2 linked regions of the Homo sapiens genome follow. The protein of the gene in region 1 interacts with the protein of each later gene in a pairwise test. Each region holds a gene or a part of one and is shown on either strand. Other genes may lie near its edges.

Evidence for each region. Proteins that work in one complex are often made in the same cells at the same time.
Region 2: the proteins of DRG1 (region 1) and CLDN1 interact in a two-hybrid assay, tested with the Homo sapiens proteins (one large-scale study listed by BioGRID and IntAct).

The regions. Positions count from the first base shown.
Region 1 is NC_000022.11:31,420,104-31,423,603, forward strand, and holds part of DRG1 (developmentally-regulated GTP-binding protein 1), read left to right. Parts: intron 1-152; coding exon 153-322; intron 323-3,176; coding exon 3,177-3,307; intron 3,308-3,500. UniProt on the Homo sapiens protein: Catalyzes the conversion of GTP to GDP through hydrolysis of the gamma-phosphate bond in GTP. Appears to have an intrinsic GTPase activity that is stimulated by ZC3H15/DFRP1 binding likely by increasing the affinity for the potassium ions.
Region 2 is NC_000003.12:190,308,947-190,312,446, reverse strand, and holds part of CLDN1 (claudin-1), read left to right. Parts: intron 1-2,193; coding exon 2,194-2,278; intron 2,279-3,500.

The sequences.
Region 1 (3,500 bases):
TGTAGCTATAAGAACTTCACGTATGCATGTATGTATTACAGAAAAATCCTTTGACACTTAAATGTAGGGGGAAAAAACACCTCTACTTGAGTATTTGGGTTAGTTAAGGCTTTATTGAACTTTCTTGCGTATGTTTTTTTCTTACTCTTCAGTGGCCCGAACCTGTAACTTGATCTTGATTGTTCTGGATGTCCTGAAACCTTTGGGACATAAGAAGATAATTGAAAATGAGCTGGAAGGCTTTGGCATTCGCTTGAACAGCAAACCCCCCAACATTGGCTTTAAGAAGAAGGACAAGGGAGGCATTAATCTCACAGCCACTGTAAGTGGGGAATATGACATGGGGCAGGCTGCTGCAGGAATTGGAATGGGGAGTGGATTGGGGTGCATGGACCCTGACATTGGAAAATTTCCTGGCTTTTCCCTGCACTAATTGAGATAACACAATGACTTTATAATGACTGACAAGAAAAACTTCAAGATTAGGATAGGAGCCAGTCTCAGACTTACCTTTGCTACTTATTTCCTCTTTTGGATTATCTATTGGGAATGATATGGGCGTGTGGACCAATATTATGCTTGCATAAAGTAGATGGCCGCCAATATCTTCTGTTTTCATTCATTTAACACAAATTTATAGAGTGCCTACCACGGGCCAAGCATTATTTTAGGCTCTGGGCAGGAATGGAAGAGGGAATAGTGAAACCCCCTGCTTTTATATTCTAATTGGATAGAATAGAAAACAATGTTAATGAGTAAAATATAATGTATTCGTCAATGATAAATATAAGAACACAAAGTAGGGAAAGGAGATAAGAGTGTTGGTGTGAGGGTTGCAGTTTTAAGAACGTTGGTCAGGGAAGTCTTTACTGAGGTGACATGAAGGTGTGAACCAAGTGGATATCTTGAAGAAGAGCATTTGCTTCATGCCTCAACCTCCTGAGTAGCTGGGATTACAGGTGCCTGCCATCGCACCCAGCTAACTTTTGTATTTTTAGTAGAGACGGGGTTTCACCATGTTGGCCAGGCTGGTCGGTTTCATTCTGTTGCTTAGGCTGGAGTACAGTGGCACAATCATAGTTCACTGTTAGCTCAAAACTCTTGGGCTCAAGTGACCCTCCTGCCTCAGCCTTCTAAGTAGCTAGGGCTAAGTCACATGCCTCCAGGCTTGGCTAATTTTTTTTTTTTTTTTTTTTTTTGGTAGAAACGGAGATTTGCCATGTTGCCCAGGCTGGTCTTGAACTTTTGGCCTCAAGCTGTCTCCTGCTTCGGTCTCCCAAAGTGTTGGGATTACAGGTATGAGCCACCATACCCAGCCATGTTTTTTATTTCCTGAGCTAAAAAAAAAATGAACTCTTATTACTAAAATGGTAGGACTTTTGGTAGAATAGATTTGGAGGGAAGGAGAAGATCAGGATGTTAAATTTTAGATGCCAGTGAGACATCCAGGTATTTCAGTCAAGAGGGCATGTGGGGTAGGCTGGGCATGGTGGCTCATGCCTGTACATCTATAATCCCAGCACTTTGGGAGGTTGAGGCAGGAGGATCACTTGAGCCCAGGAGTTCAAGACCAGCTTGGGCAACAAAGTGAGACCCCATCTCTATAAAAATAATAAAGAAGGCATGAGGAATTATCTAGGCTGGATATATAAATTTGGTGATTATCAACTTTAATGTCATGGGCCTAACTGAGATCACCAAGGATGTGAGTATAGATAGAAAAGAAAAGAGAGCTGGGTGCAGTGGCTCACACCTGTAATCCCAGTACTTTGGGAGTCCGAGGTGGGCGGATCACAAGGTCAAGAGATGGAGACCATCCTGGCCAACATGGTGAAACCCTGTATCTACTAAAAACACAAAAATTAGCCGGGCATGGTGGCACGCACTTGTAATCTCAGCTACTCGGGAGGCTGAGGCAGGAGAATCGAACCCAAGAGGTGGAGGTTGCAGTGAGCCGAGATGACGCCACTGCACTCCAGCCTGGTGACAGAGCGGGACTCCGTCTCAAAAAAAAAAAGAAAGAAAGAAAGAAAAGAAAAGAGAATCGGCCAGGCACGGTGGCTTACGCCTGTAATCCCAACACTTTGGGAGGCCGAAGTGGGCAGATTACATGAGGTCAGGAGTTGGAGGCCAGCCTGACCAACATGGCAAAACCCTGTCTGTACTAAAAATACAAAAATTAGCCAGGCGTGGTGGCACGTGCCTGTGATCCTGGTACTTCGGAGGCTGAGGCAGGAGAATTGCTTGAACCCAGGAGGCGGAGGTTGCAGTGAGCTGAGATCGCGCCACTGCACTCCAGCCTGGGCAACAAGAGCAAAACTCCGTCTCAAAAGAAAAAAAAGAAAGAAAAGAGACTCAGAGAAATAAGACTTCTTAGACCAAGAGAGAGAAGGAAAACTGAAAGAGTTTGAAATACTGGAAGCCAAGTAAAGTGTTTCACATAGGAGTGACCAATTCTGTCAAATGCTGCTTCTCTGTCAGAATTGAGGACTGAGAGTTTCCTACTAAATTTAACACTTCAGAGCCCAGATGATTTGACTGGCATAGGTTTCAGCTGTCCTGCCCAAAACATCTTTCCCATTATCCCGTCTTAATATTCAAATTTGAACATTTAAGATTATTTCTGTGTTAGTTTCAGTGCTGCCATAATACGGTACCACAGATGGGTGGCTTAAATAACAGAAATTTATTTTTCATAATTCTAGAGGCTAGAAGTCTGAGATGAAGTTGATGGCAGGGTTGATTTCTTCTGAGGCTTCTGTCCTTGGCTTACAGATGGGACTTCATATGGTGTTTGCTCTGTGTGTCTGTGTCCTAATCTCCTTTTCTTATTAGGACCACCAGTATTGGATTATGGCCCCACCCTAATGACCTTATTCTAATTTGATTACCGCTTTAAAGACCCTATCTCCAAATACATCACATTCTGAGATACTGAGGTTAAGACTTCATGTGAATTATTTGGTGGGGGAAGGAGGAACACAGTTCAGCGTGTAACACCTTCCTTGGAGTTTGGACATTTATTTCCTACTAAAAGTCAGTGACACTCATCCCGGATGTATTTAGTAATGAGTTTGCATCTTAGCTAGAATTTTCCAGGTACATGGATATTGGTACACTTGACAAGTATTTTTTTTAAATTTTGTGCTGACTAGTCATCTGCTATTCCCTTTCAGTGCCCCCAGAGTGAGCTGGATGCTGAAACTGTGAAGAGCATTCTGGCTGAATACAAGATTCATAATGCCGATGTGACTCTACGTAGTGATGCTACAGCTGATGACCTCATTGATGTGGTGGAAGGAAACAGGTACTGACTGAGTGTGCAGTCTGTGCCTGACTGAATTGGAAGCCTTGTGATGGAAACAGTATTGGATCTTGAATCTGGCAGAAGTTTATCTTAATTCCAGTTGTCCTACTGTCTTTTTTTTTTTTTTTTTTTTTGAGATGGAGTCTCACTCTGTTGCCCAGGCTAGAGTGCAGTGGCGTGATCTCAGCTCACT
Region 2 (3,500 bases), on another chromosome or scaffold:
GAAAAATAAGGATAGCATTCCAGCTGGGCAGATCTAATTCGAGAATAAACAGGATGTGCCTGTAGATCAATGAAAAGAAAGGCCAACTGGAGTAGAGGTGGCCTGTTGGAATGGTCAGTTTAAAGCAGTTAGGAAAAAAAAAATACAGAAATACCTTTAAATTTTTTTGATAAAATAATATTATATTTTCCATTTAAAATAAATACGTGTTTTTTAGGCCAGGTGTGGTGGTTCACGCCTGTAATCCCAGCACTTTTGGAGGCTGAGGAGGGCGGATCACCTGAGGTCGTGAGTTCAAGACCAGCCTGGCCAACATGGTGAAACCCCATCTCTACTGAAAACACAAAAATTAGCTGGGTGTGGTGGTGCACGCCTGTAATCCCATATACTCCAGAGGCTGAGGCATGAGAATCACCTCAACTCGGGAGCCGAGATCGCACCACTGCACTCCAGCCTAAGCAACAGAAGACTGTCTAAAAAAAAAAGAAAAAAGAAAAGAAAAGAAATATCTGTTTTTTAATTCAAGTGTTGATTGATAAGTTACATTATGTGTCATTTGAGAAAATCAAAGTCAGAAAACATGGACAGCATTATTTCAAAGCTTTATAATAATGCCTATTTAAAAAATTATAGTGTATGTATACTTACGTGTGTATATGTACATACATATGCAATCTCTCTGTGTGTATATATATATCTTTATATCTATACACTGTGTTATATATGTTGATAATCTCCATATAAATTATACAGCTATAATAATAGACTACTATATGTTCTCTATATTAGGTATTAGATGCATATATTATATATGTAGTATATTATAGTATATTATTTTAAAAAAATAACAGATATAATTAATGATACAAATCTACTAATAGAAAAAAACTAGAATAGACTTTATTTTCTTATTTTCTTTTTGACAGAAGACTTGTAGGGGCTTTTGCTTCAGTATAATATGTCAGTTTAACCAGTAATTGAGGAAGAGTATCTGTGGCTTTGCTAAAGATGTGGTTAGTTTAAAATGACCAGTCTCTCAGTTTACCCAAATACAAATTGACTCCTCTCTGAAAAGGCATGGATAGTGTCTTATTCCCAATAATTTACTCTTATATCAAAGGCTGCGAATAGTAATCTTTGTGGCCATCGTGGCATGAAGTGTATGAAGTGCTTGGAAGACGATGAGGATGAAATGCATTGCATTCTTCCTTCGCTTGCCTTCTTGTAACTCCCACATGTGACTGCATCACTCCTATTCCAGTTTCAGGGACTTCTCTTAGGAGTAAGCATCACAAGTTCAAGACCATTCGCATGGTCTATTTGAGAAGCCAAAAGCAATAGTGTTTTCTGTCATGTCTAGAGGCAATTACATTGGACCATGTTTTTGGCTGGGGAGAGACAGTAGCATAGAAACATCTAATCTATCTATATTGATGAATACTTAGAATTACTACAAAAAAGTTATTTAACTTTTTTGATAAAAAAATGAAGTATTTTATACATCTTATAAATGATTAAGTGAATGATTTTGACTAAATGATTTCTCTGCTATCATTGAATATAAAATGCCATGGGAAATTGAGATTGGGTTGCATAAATTGATCTGATGTGGCACCCTCAACAAATCTCAGGCCAACCTATACCTATATCAGGTATTCCCTTGGCCAATGGGGCAGTAGTAATGCAGGTATTCTGGTCCATTCTGAGACATGTCCTGATCTCACTCTATCTAGCTGCTTGCATTCCTTTTGACTCTGCAGAAATGTAAATTTTGAGTTTGATCAAGAACATAGAAGAGTTTTCATCTTCCCCTTTTGCAAGTAATTCTACCTGTACTAATAATGACAATAGTTTTATCAAATGTAGTTTAGTATCCTAATGTATAACAGCATATTTAAAAGAGATTTTGTACAACATACACCTGCCTAATTGTTTCCAAAAAAGAATTATTTGTGCCAAGATATCATAAAAAAGTATAAATTTTGTCTAATGCCAACCTAGTATTTTTTTATATTTTAATAGATACTTGGAATAAATCATATCTGGACTTCTAATCTCCCTAATACCAAAATAAAAATGTCAACACTATTGATGAGATTTAATTCTTGCAAAATATGTTTTGGTTTAACAGGTTGTGTATTTAGGCTCAGTGTTCCATGGTGATTAACAGTCTTTTGTTTTGAATTTCTATAGGTCTGGCTATTTTAGTTGCCACAGCATGGTATGGCAATAGAATCGTTCAAGAATTCTATGACCCTATGACCCCAGTCAATGCCAGGTAACGCTATTCAGGCGTAAAATAGTTTGTTTTCTGAGAAAATGCCCTTTTTATATTCTACAAAGTCCTGCTAGTGCCATCATTTCCCAGATTTGCTTTCAAGAATTTTATGTCAAACCTACAAACAATTTAAATGATCTCTGACTTATGTCAAAATGAGTTTGATAATTGCTTTAACACCCTGTATTGATGACAAAATACCTTCCAAAGTAGAAAAGTTTCAAGCTCTGTGCTTTTCAACTGTATAACTGGGCTTTCTTTTGTTTGTTTTTTCAAATATTAATAAAGATGTTAATATATTTGAAATTTCCTTTTTGAAGTGTATTCTGATGTTTACAACACCTACCTAAGATTATTTGTAACTAATGCACAGTTTATGATTGATTGAGAAAAATTATACTACTATAGGGGTTAATGAATAATACTTCATTCCCAACAGTTCATTTTTACACGTAAAGCTATTATGTATGTTTTTAGTATGTTCAGATACCACCTTGAAATTTTTTGTTCTTTCACAACTGTAAAATTGGCTTTACAAAGGTCATCTTTCTTAATACTGCAGGTTGTGCAAGTTGAGCTGATTCTTAGCTCTCGTGTAACAACATTCTTTAATCAGAGACGAGGCTCTTCATCTCACTGTCTTCACATCTTTAATGCCTAATAACTACATTCAGTCAGGATGTTAAAATATAATTATTGTTTGTTGAGTGCTTAGATGAATGGATGAAAAACCTCAGTGTTTGGAGAGATAAGATGTGTTTCTTTTTATATAATCACCCACATATGGGAGAACACATACTGCAATGGTTGTGTTGGAGCCCATCCCATAAGATTTACAGTGTAAGAATAGAAACTGCTAGAGGTCAGTAGGCTAAAATTTCGCCAAGGTAATAACACCAGTAATGCACAGGAAAGCACTTTATAAATTGCCAGCCATTTTGCAATTGTTATTTACATTATTGCATGTGATCCTAAAAGCAGTCTATTGAGGCAGGTGGGATTATCCTGCTTTGAGAGTAGGAGAAACTGAGGCTGAGAGGTGAAGTTGCTATCCCAGAATTGCAGCAGTTGAGAGTCTGCATCAGGATTTAGACTTGGCCTTATAACTTATAGAACCAACCCTTCTCTACTCTTCCGTATTGTCCATAATCACTCACAGATACCCCACCCTAAGTGTCTGCTTTAATACATCTGCCTGGATCAGCTTAATCCAGAATGGTTC